Linked DNA regions of Homo sapiens. The protein of the gene in region 2 interacts with the protein of the main gene of each other region in a biochemical or structural test. Each region holds a gene or a part of one and is shown on either strand. Other genes may lie near its edges.

What was found.
Region 1: the proteins of VDAC2 (region 2) and OTUD5 form a complex in vitro, tested with the Homo sapiens proteins (one study listed by BioGRID).

What each region holds. Positions count from the first base shown.
Region 1 is NC_000023.11:48,933,579-48,940,924, forward strand, and holds part of OTUD5 (OTU domain-containing protein 5), read right to left. Parts: intron 2,774-7,346; exon of another isoform or gene 2,613-2,773; intron 1,441-2,612; coding exon 1,376-1,440; intron 1,290-1,375; coding exon 1,133-1,289; coding exon of another isoform or gene 1,118-1,132; intron 1,035-1,117; coding exon 886-1,034; intron 1-885. UniProt on the Homo sapiens protein: Deubiquitinating enzyme that functions as a negative regulator of the innate immune system. Has peptidase activity towards 'Lys-48'- and 'Lys-63'-linked polyubiquitin chains. Can also cleave 'Lys-11'-linked ubiquitin chains (in vitro).
Region 2 is NC_000010.11:75,227,561-75,231,948, reverse strand, and holds the end of VDAC2 (non-selective voltage-gated ion channel VDAC2), read right to left. Parts: intron 2,306-4,388; coding exon 2,248-2,305; intron 1,052-2,247; coding exon 960-1,051; 3' UTR 501-959; downstream 1-500. UniProt on the Homo sapiens protein: Non-selective voltage-gated ion channel that mediates the transport of anions and cations through the mitochondrion outer membrane and plasma membrane.

The DNA.
Region 1 (7,346 bases), on a different chromosome or scaffold from region 2:
AGCTAATTTTTGTATTTTTAGTAGAGACAGGGTTTCACCATGTTAGCCAGGCTGGTCTTGAACCCCTGACCTCAGGTGATCTGCCAGCCTCGGCTTCCCAAAATGCTGGGATTACAGGTGTGGGCCACCGTGCCCAGCCTCTTTGCAGTAATTCTGTAAATCTAAACCTGCTCTAAAATTAAGTTTATTTAAAAACAAAACAAAAAAGAACCCTATGTTGGAGGGTGTGTTGGTGTTAGGCTATGTGTTTCCGAAAATGAAGCAGGAGTACTTTGTGTTTGTAGAAGTGAAACCTGAATAGAAGATACCAAAATCCTCAGCAAATGACTGTAAGAGAGAGAGAGAGAAATGAATGAGAATCTATCGGTATGTGCTGGGAAAATGCACTGCCACCTTCTGAACACCTACTAGGCCCCAGGCCCAGTGGGAGGTGCTTTCTGTATCAGCCAAGCTGCCAGCCTGGAATACTTACAGAATCTGCCTAGATCACACAGCCAGTGAGTGGTGGGGCCAGGCCTGTACCCCATGTCTCTGTGACCATGGCTGTCTGTAACCACTATGATCCCAGGAGAAAGATCCATGCCAAGATGCCCAGAGCAAGCCCTGGCTCACTGCTCCAAAATAGGACTCCACATCCTAAAATGCCAGCCCTCAACGGGCACAAAAGATAGGTAAGCCAACTCAGACAGGCAAACCAAGACCAAAGAACAAGCCCTGAGAGATCACCTTAAGTAACTCCCTATTTTTTTTTTTTTTTTTGTAAGGGTGAGACCTCAGGGGAGAGAGGAGACAGGATATTTTTGTGAGTTAGGGGCAAAACAGACTCCAACAGAGGTTTCTGACCTCTATATCCAGCAGCCATTCTGGGCACAGGGACCCACTCACCCCTGGTTTGAATGATGGCAGGCCCAGCCCCACACCAATGGTGGCCTTGTTAGGATTCACCACTGAATTATAGTGGATATTCCGATGGTAGCTAACACGAATGGGTTCGTCCTCGTTTTGATGTATCCCATGGAATGTGTTGATGGGTTCTGCAGAGAAAGAGAAGGAGGGAGCATCCACAGCAGGCCAGGTTGGGCAGGCTCGAATGAGGCACCATCTTTCCCTCACCTACCCACTGCAGAAGTACCTGTGCTGTACTGGTACACCTCCACAGGACGGTTGTACATCTCTGCCATGGCCTGCATCTCAATGTGGTTGCCATGGCAATTGTTTTTCCGCTTCCTGTTAATGTAGGTGGTAAAGTCCTCTGTGACATAGTTGGAGAAGTAGTCGGCATTCTTCATCTGCAGAATAGATTGGAAGGTTAAGGTCTGTGTGGAGAAGAAATCCTCCCACCCTGCCCCTTCCCCAAAGGCCTCCATTTTCTCACCAGATAGTCCATGCAATGCTTTCGCACAACCTCATGCATGTCCTGGTCTCCATACACCTGGTCAGCTGTGGGGGCAGAAGAAAGCAGCAGCTAGGGTCAGAGATGCCAGAGAAGAGCTCTGAATCATAGAACATCCTTTGGGGAGGAGGAACTGGGGGACCAGGGAAATTCCCTTTTCTACCCCAAGGCCTGGAGAGTTCTTGCCCTTGTAGGCTAGAACGGGGTCATGGAAAAATATGGCAGGCAGGGCCAGACTTGAAGAACAAGAGAGTGCAGGTGAGAGGAACACATCCACAGGCCTCTTGGGCAGATGACTTTGTCTAGGGTACACGTGGCCACTCAGAGAAATCAACAACATTCTAAGTTCCACAGGTTGGCCTCAAATGCTATTGATTCCCACACCCCCTTTGCTTTCCACATGAGGAAACTGAGGTTCAGGGGGAGTTTGTGGTTTGTCCAAGGTCACAAAGAGTCAGTCTGTGACAGAGTCAACTCTGAATTCAGTTTTCCTGACTCCTACAAGTCAACATGGCCTTTGTAGGCTGAAAAAAAAGGGAACAAAGACAAAAAAAGGAAAGAAAAAAAAATGGGCTCCAAGCCCAGTTCTGCCAGATACTAGAGAGTTGAGTGACCAGAGGCAAGTGACCCAAGTGTTCTGAGCCTCATATACCTCATCTGTAAAATGGGAAAAAGAGGGATAACAGGCCAGGCGTGGAGGCTCACACCTGTTATCCCAGCACTTTGGGAGGCCAAGGTGGGCAGATCACTTGAGGTCACGAGTTCGAGACCAGCCTGGCCAACGTGGTAAAACCCCGTCTCTACCAAAAATACAAAAATTAGCCGGGCATGGTGGCGGGCGCCTATAATCCCAGCTACTTGGGAGGCTGAAGCAGGAGAATCGCTTGAACCCAGGAGGCAGAGGTTGCAGTGAGCCGAGATCATGCCACTGCACTCCAGCCTGGGCGACAGAGTAAGACTCTGTCTCAAAAAAAAAAAAAAAAAAAAAAAGGGATAACCAAATGGCAGGCCTTTTGTGGGGATTAAATGAGATAACGGGTATAAAATAACTACCACTGGGCTTGGGACAGAGTAGCCACAGAGTAAATCAGAATTCCTTCCTCCGTAGGGAGGCCTGAATGTGGGGTACTGTGAAGGTGACAGAGGTGAGTAAAATCCTGCCCCTACCTTCGGGGAGCACACAGTCTAGTAAAAGAGATAAGACACACATGCAACTAACTTTAGCTTAACTCAGGATGGGCAGCCTGTGGCCCGAATAGTCCAGGCGTCGTGAGATTTGGTCAAACTAAGGCGAGAAGGAAACACACTCCCTCTGCTTCGCTTGAGGATCTTCACACATGCCGTTCCTTCTCTTCAGGACGCTCCTTCCATCCTCGTCAGCTGCCTACTTCTCAAACACCAATGTGTTCTTTATTTATTTATTTATTTGAGACAAGGTCTCGCTCTGTCGCCCAGGCTGGAGTGCAGTGGCGCGATCATAGTTCACTGCAGCCTTGACCTCCTGGGCTCAAGCGATCCTCTCGCCTCAGACTCCCAAAGTGCCTGGATTACAGGTGTGAGCCACCGCGCCTGGCCCAACATGTTCTTTAATACAGTTCCCCACTACCCAGGACACCTCTATCACCAGATTTATCAAAGGTGTGCATAGACTTCTGCCCGACCACACTGGGCTCCCACAGAAGGCAAAGGGCAGTTCACACCAAAGTCCACCCCCAGCTCAGGGCCCGATACAGTAAAGGAAATCAGGAAAAGTTTACTGAGCAAATGGATAGGCTGGGTAAGCCAGGGAGCTCTTCTCCCTGTGAAATTAAAGTGGGCCTGAAGATCATGCAAGTCTGATTTCCACTGGTTTTGGGAATTTCCCTTTGTTTCCCCAGAGGACCACTGCTCTGATGGGATCTCCCTGGGGCATGGGGCTAGGGTCAGGTCACACAGGAACACTCCTGAGTTCTTCCCTGTCAGTCTACCTCTCTGAAGAACTGTCAGAAGAACACCTTCCCTGCCTTCCCCTTCCTACCCTGGAGTGTTCTGTGAGAAAGGCTACTCTGAGATAGAAAATAGGGCCCATGTTTGTCTCCAGTCCTCTTGGAGGTGAAGAGACCTGAAGGGTAAGGGGGTGTGGAGGTTGTGAAGGCGGGAAGGGGGGTAGCCCCTTCACCAATGTAAACAAGGATGTGGGTTCTGCGGCCACACTCTCCCCCGCCCTCCCCAGCGGCATTTCCAGCAAGTCACATGTCCTGCGCACAGGCTGGGGGCCCCCTGCTGCTGCCTTTCTTAGAAGCCAGGACCACAGAGCCCGCACAGTGAGCTACTTGGGGAGCTATTTCTGTAGACTGAGCTTGGGGTACTGGGAGGCAGTGCTGTTGGCAGCTGCAGTAAACAGGAACAAAGATGAGAATGAAGGGGTTAAATAGGGGTTGGCTGGCCAGGCTCAGAGAGATAGGCTGAGGTGCTGGAGAAAGCCCATCTCCTATGGAAAGGTCAACGGTCATTTCCAGGCCTGGGAGTTCTATCTTCAAGAGCTAGATGCCAGATGCAGGAAAATGGGGAAAGAGAGGAGACTGTGGAACAGGGAAGGGATCTGGGGGAAAACCCCCTGAGGGTCCCATTTCTCTGCCACTGACCCCTTTGCCTGGCAGAAAGGCTCTGCTGCCTCCTAGCTGTGTAGCAATGGATAAGGCCTTTAACCTCTCTAAGCTGAAATGTCCTCATGCATAAGGTGGAGACAGTAACTCCTCTTCCATCTGCTGGGTGTTGTCAAAACTACACAGGAGGTTTGCCAAGCACCTAAGGCACAGTAGGTGGTCAAGAAACAGGAACACAATTTGTCATGACGACAATGATTCCTTCATATGCTAGTTACCCACGAGTCAGCCAGAATGTTGCCATAACCACTTATGAAGCCCTTCCTCATTTCTGTTGCAATTCCTCAGCCAGAGGAAAGCCCCAAATGCAGACCTAGGATGCATGTCCTCTCCTGGCTCTCTACCTTTAGCGAAACCAAAGGTCCACAAGTCTACCTCTAGGCCGTTAGTTCTAACAAAACTTCAGCAGTTAAATTAATATCGAATTAACAATACAGGCTTCATAAAACAGGGTCCTAAAGTATGGACGAGTTATGACACTTCTTTACTTATCTGTAAAATGTAAAATACCACCTTCTCTCCTCAATCCTATGATGGCACTGATAGGTGATATGGTATAACATGTACCTAATCACAGCTTTTGAGGGGGGAAACACACCACACTGATTATAAGGTATACCCTAAGTTTGGAATCATTAACGTGGAAGAAAATATACATCTCCAAACCAAGGAAAACAGCAATAGTACTACCCCAACAAGGGAGAATAGAAGGATTTCTCCAATAATATAAGGCAGGAAAAGCATCTAAGCACAGAGCTAAACACATAGGAAGTACTCAACAAGAATTCATTTTTGGCCAGGTGTGGTGGCTCACGCCTGTAATCCCAGCAATTTGGGAGGCCGACGCAGGTGGATCACCTGAGGTCAGGAGTTCAAGACCAGCCGAGCCAACATGGTGAAACCCTATCTCTACTAAAAATACAAAAAATTAGCCAGGCAGGGTGGTGGATGCCTGTAATCCCAGCTATTTGGGAGGCTGAGGCAGAAAAATCGCTTGAACCCGGGAGGTGGAGGTTGCAATGAGCCAAGATCACACCACTGCACTACAGCCTAGGCAACAAGAGCGAAACTCTGTCTCAAAAAAAAAAAAAAGAATTCGTTTTTCTGACTTTCCTAGCTCCACCTCTGTCCTCCAGAAAGCCCTCCTCTTCCCAGAAGGCTGGCACACAGGGCTGGGGGCCAGGCTTGACTTCCCTGTGGAGGGGTCTGAGGTTGGGGGGATGACCTGCAGAGGTAGGGGAATTCAGAGAACTTGTTTTGATAGAAACTGAAACTCCTCCTCTTGCTGACGCTGCACTTGTGGGCAATCTGCACCTGTTCTCCCCTCCCAGAGGCCAGCTGGAAGGGGGTCCCCCACCATTCTACCTCTGTTCCCATCTCAAACAGGGCTCAGAAATCCTCAGTACAATACTACAATTGGTCCCACACCAAAGACTTTTCACACTCCAACTCATTCTATCCTTACCAAAACACTCTTACTTTACCCAGGAGACACAGAAATGTGGCAAAGCTTGCCTGGGATCACAGATTTAGGGGGAGTGAAGGGGAGGCCAGGCTCTCAAAGGGTAACTGCTGGCCCCAGCTGATATTACCACCTTCACCCCAATCCAGCCACCATCTTAGTCACCTTACTCCCTGGGGCAGGACCTGATCTTGTGTGCCTCAGTTTCCACACCAGCACAAGCAGGAATCAGCTAGAACCCAGGAAAGGCATGGGAGAGGGCAGAGATTATAGATATCAGGGGCTGCATCTCTCCCTAGGGCCACAGAGGCCAATATGAACCTTACCCTCCCCATACACACCCCACTTCTTTCCTTTTTCTGGACACACAGAGACACCAGTATAGAAATGCACATGTGTATACACATACAGCAGAGACTGCCAAAGATGCTCCCTGAGGCCAAATGCTCACCCAACAAATCCCACAACAGAGAACTATCACATTCAATGAGTAGATGCCCTTGCCACTTCAGGAAAGACTGAAGATGTGAGGCTCTATAAACTGAGGGACCCCCTACCCCACCAACCTCCTTCCTGGCCTCTGGCAGGGTAGGTGGAGGGCAGGGGAAATAACCAAGAGCTCTAACAGACTAGCCTCAACCTCTCTCCTCTGTTGCCCGGGGGAAGTCCTTATGTAACTAATGTAATGTAACCAATAATGTACCCAGATTTATGTTAAGAAGCAAGACATGAGAGCCTGGATTATCTTCCTATAGGGTCCTACCATTTGCTTTAGAGACATCTGAGAACTGCCTACTCCCCAGGTAGCTGCCTGCCTCCCAGAAGAGCCACAGCAAGTTCCGCTAAGGGCAAAAAAGGAAGCTAGGTGTCTACAGGGAACCTAAAAACAAACCACACTAACGTGTGTACACACAGCTGCAGAGGGAGACAGGGACCTGGTCTGCTCCCCACTACCCTCCTGGTCCAGTGGGAACCCTGGCCCCACTGAGAACCAATCTCCTGAGGAGATGAGCCAGGACAAAGGTCTCACTTGCCTGTCAAGCAGCTGTGGTGTGACCTGGTCTGTAGCCCCAACTACCCCAACTAGCATACCCTCAGTGGGAGAGACAGAACTCATCCCACTGGATAGTCTGGTTCCTGAGATGTGTGCTCCTCTGCTCAAGGATTCCCACTGCAAGGATGAGAAACCTGAAGGATACACGGGAGAGGCTGAAGGAAGCTGGTGTACAGGAAATGGCCCGTGGGAATCTTCTTTCTGTGGCCTGGTTCAACCTCAAATACCAATGTTCTGACACTGGTTGTATGACCTAGATAGGGTAGGGTCTTGGCTTTCTCTTGAGGCCTCAGTTTCCCCATTTATAAAACAATCAAAATTGATCTCAGATCCATCCCTCCTAGTGCTGATGTTCCAAGACCAAAAGGCCCAGAAGAGTGGGCCTAGCTAATGTTTCTGGGCCTCATCGTGGTAACATGCACAGCCCTTGCCACTCCCCCATGGCCCATGTAGAAACAACCATGTGGCCTTCACTCTGCCCACAGAAGCTAGCACCAGGACCCTGGTCAGGGTTAGAGGTTTCTGCTGAGTCAAAGCCACATGGAGGGAGGGAGCAAGGGAGAGATGCAGAGTCATGTTTCCAGGAGGAGGTTATCTGAGCATAACAGGGACAGGGTGGGCCACAGGATACCTCTGAGGCTCAGGTTCCCACCTCCACTCCACCCAAGCCTTCAATGATGCTCATGAATCCCCAATAAGAGGAGGTGGGAGAGAACTGAGCGCAAGCAATGGATATTGCTTAACTCAGGGGAACCAATGGCAGGCAGGCAGCTACCTGGGGAGTAGGCAATT
Region 2 (4,388 bases):
CAGATGAAGGCCAATGCCACGCAGCCTAAAGGGGTTGTCTCTGGTCTCCTACCTATACCCACCTTTCAGTGTGTCTGCCTAGAAGGAAATGAGTAATGACCTCTCACAGTCCCTCAGGTTACCCTCACTGTCTACACCTTACTCCTCTTCTGTATGCTTAACACCATCTCACCAAACCAGGGCCTACTTTATGTTCCTAGCAGTAGCTCACAGGGGTATGGTGTGTTTGTGTAACTTTTCAGCACCTTCTCTTTTTCCTTTCAATGATGCAGGGCAATTCTGCACAGACTTACAAACTGTGCATGTAAAAGTGTAAAAGCATGTATCCTCTTATTGTAGTCTTAAAAAGCTCGTGGAATCTAGGGACACAGAAGATTCTGTGGCACAGATTTAGGTACAGAGCAAAATACTCACTGGAAAAATCAAGTATTGGCTAGCTACCACGGGGATTTGATCCTAGCTGGCAAACGTGGAACTCCGCAAATACTTGGAGCCATTAATTATGTATACTTGTTTTATTCATAATTTGTCATGTTCTGGGATACCAAAAGTAATAATGGCTGAACTTAACAAAATTTGTAACCTCATCTTAATATCCACTGATCCATCTCATTCAATGGTAACAGTCAATGTTTTCTAAAGGAACATAAAAACAAACATGCACACAATTGCACAGTTTTCATAAAGGTCTATTTCATTATTGGTGGGTAGCGCATTTAACAGTTAAATACATTTAAATAATGTATAGGTGACTGCAGGACTGCAGCATTGGTAACTAGATAACCAACTAGAAACCAGCTAACAAAGAACTGTCTAAATACTTAAAATACAGCTCTTGTTGAGATCATCCTTTGTTTTGATCATCTTCTTGGGGGAAAAAAGCCTGCTGCTGGTCACAATGGAAATATATTAAGGCCAAATCTTCTGATATCCATTCCCAAAGGTTTCTTTCAGCTGGATTAAGCCTCCAACTCCAGGGCGAGCCCAACCTTGTGGCCTCCAGCATTAATGCTCTTCCCATCTACCAGAGCAGAGAGTGTAAGCTTCACACCTATTAAGACAAAAAAACACAAAAACAAAAAACCGTGATGTACCTGGCACGTCACTCAGTCTGGGCCTTCTTTCACAGTCATCCCCAGAGCCTGCCTGTCACTTCCTCAGCCTGTCAGCTGACCTACTAGTGCTGGCCACCAGAGGGCGCTTGGAAGTATCTGAGACACCAGAAGAACTGGGTTACCATTCTAGCTAAGGCACCAAGTCACAGAGAAATGTTTTAATAACAACTTCAAAGTGTTCTAGAATATACTATAATGTTGAGTATACTATCCCGATGAAAAGAGACTAAAGACATAATCATAATTCGATCCTAGAAAGGAAAACCTACAATAAAGACACATTTGGGAACGGGGGTAAATCTGAATATGTATTTGGTATTACATTAATGTTAGTTTTCTTAGATGCGACAATGGTATTGTGCTTATAAAGAAAAATGTCTTACTCTTAGGATACACATGCTAGGGGCTGCCATGTCTGTATGTCTGCAAAACATACATTTTTTTAAAAGTATGTGAAGTTTCAGACATAAAATAAATGTAGTAAATGTTAATAATTGTTAATAAATTGTTAATAATTGGTCAATGCAAGGTAAGGACATATGATGTTCATTGTACCATTCTTCCAACTTTTCTTTAGGTTTCAAAATCACCAAAATAAACTTTGGGGAGGAAAATCCCTATCTGAAGGGGGAAGTCTCCAGTACTTTAAGCAGATTCCAAGATGAGTCATGTGCACTCTGAAGTTGGAGAAGCGCTGTTCTAGACACAGCACGCTTCAAAATATTATATAAAGTCAACAAGACTATAGGCAGAACCAAAGCAATGAGTGAACTTTGATCAACAAAATAAAAATTACTACAAAACATTTCAGATACAAGCGAGGAAACTGACAGGAAGTGGGTATTAAATAATAAGGAATCACTAACTTTCTTAGGTGTGATAGTATTATAGTTATGCAGAAAAGAAGAGACGGGCCTTATTCTGAAGAGAAGTGTCATGACCAAATGGCCCAGCAAAAAAAAAAAAAGCAAAGAAAAAGAAATAAAAAATTGTGGTAAAAGGTAAACACGTATTTATTGTACTCTTCTTTCAACTCTTCTGTGTGCTTGAAAGGTCTGAAAAGTAAGCTGAAGAATGAAAACTAAATTTTTTAATACTATCAAAACAATCCTACTTTATCAAGAATACTTACCAGGCCTCAGAGTCTGAGTATAGCCTACTCCAATTAAGCTAGAGTTGTTGACTTTTGCCTAAAATAAAATACAAAAACAACTGTAAGAAAAATATTTCAATAGAGACAAAGCCCCTACATGTTTCCCCATCATGTAATCATGAAGTGTTCAGTTTTATTCACGTGAGACAATAAAATTCAATATTATGTATTAAGCCAAACAAACCAGGTACTATTTAATTCGTATCCATTCAACTCAAAAATCAAATTCTCAGTAGGACACAATACTCTTGATAGCCACTGGAATGTATCCAAAGACCCCAAACTGTCCATACAGCACAAAAGCCTAAGCACTCTCATAAAAATCATCTTTGTTAATTCTAGTCTAGCACAACAAACCAGACCAAAATGTGGTACAAGTCAGGCTCACTAGAGGTGACACACAGCAGCCTTAAAGCACAGGGTATAAAGTTTAAATTCATGACTTAGTTACACACATTACTACTTCCAGGACTCTTCCTAAAGAATCAAAACCATGAATGTTTAAAAAAAAAAAAAAAATCTCCAAACGACAAGTAATTCCTCTGAAGAATCAGATCAAACAATCCTTTATCCTCACATTCTTACACCTCTCATAAATGCCGGTGCTGCTGAGTTCTGGCTGTATGTAACCACTGCGTTTGGGAGGAGGTCCCAGTGAGGTATCATGTACCAATCCAGGCCCCTGCCTTCCTTGCACAATCCCAACATTTTAGGACTTAGTTACCGACTTCAAGGGCTGGAATGAACCCTGAAGAGTAAGACATAGTAAAGAGTAGATTCTTTCTAGCTCCATTCTCTACCACCCCTAACATTATGAAGACACACCAGAGGCCAGGAACACCTGCCTTCATTTCCAGGGCCTAGGTTGCCTAGACATGCAACTTTGCTTTGCTTTCAGCATTCTGAGGGCTACAATATAAAGGTAACAAACAGACTATGTGACCAAAACAGATCTCCAAATGATTCGATGTCTATACTCTTATAATGTGTAACATCCAAAGAGCCCAATCCAGAGAAAGAAATGATGTAACTATACAGACACAAACCACATCCAAAACACCTGTATTCACTTGGCACTACAGCCAAATATTCATGAGCTACCAATGACCATCTAAAGAAAAAAACAGGCCTGGCGCAGTGGCTGACACCAGTAATCCCTGCACTTTGGGAGGCCAAGGCGGGAGGACCACTTGAGCCCAGGAATTCAACAGCCTGGGCAACACGGTGAGACCCCTGTCTGTCTGTACAAAATTTTCCTAGCTTGGTATGATGGTGCACACCTACCCAACTACCAGGGAAGTGGGGGGTGAGTGGAAGGATCTCAAGCCCAGGTGGCTGAGGGCACAGTGAGCTGTGATTGCACCAGTGAACTACAGCCTAGGCAACAAAGCTCAAAAAAAAAAAAAGAAAGAAAAATACCTCACTAATGACCATCTTGTACCCTACAAATAAGAGCCTCAGACAGCTGGATAGACATTCCTATTATTGGCCAGGCGCAGTGGCTCACGCCTGTAATCCCAGCACTTTGGGAGGCCGAGGCAGGCGGACCACAAGGTCAGGAAATCGAGACCATCCTGGCTAACACGGTGAAACCCCGTCTCTACTAAAAATACAAAAAATTAGCCGGGCGTGGTGGTGGGCACCTATAGTCCCAGCTACTCGGGAGGCTAAGGCAGGAGAAAGGCGTGAACCCGGGAGGCGGAGGTTGCAGTGAGTGGAGATCTTGCCACTGCACTCCAGCCTGGGCTACTGAGCGAGACTCCGCCTCAAAAAAAAAAAAAAGAAAGAAAGAAAGAAATTCCCATTATTGGCCGGGCTGGGTGGCTCATGCCTGTAATCCCAGCACTTTGGGAGGATCACAAGGTCAGGAGTTCAAGACCAGCCTGGCCAAGATGGTGAAACCCCGTCTCTACTAAAACTACAAAAATTAGCCAGGCACGGTGGCAGGCGCCTGTAATCCCAGCTACTCGGGGTGCTAAGGCAGGAGAATCACTTGAATCCGGGTGGCAGAGGTTGCAGTGAGCAGAGCAGAGATCGCACCACTGCACTCCAGCCAGGGTAACAAAGTGAGACTCTGTCTCCAAAAAAAAAAAAAAAAAAAAATTCCTATTATTTAACAG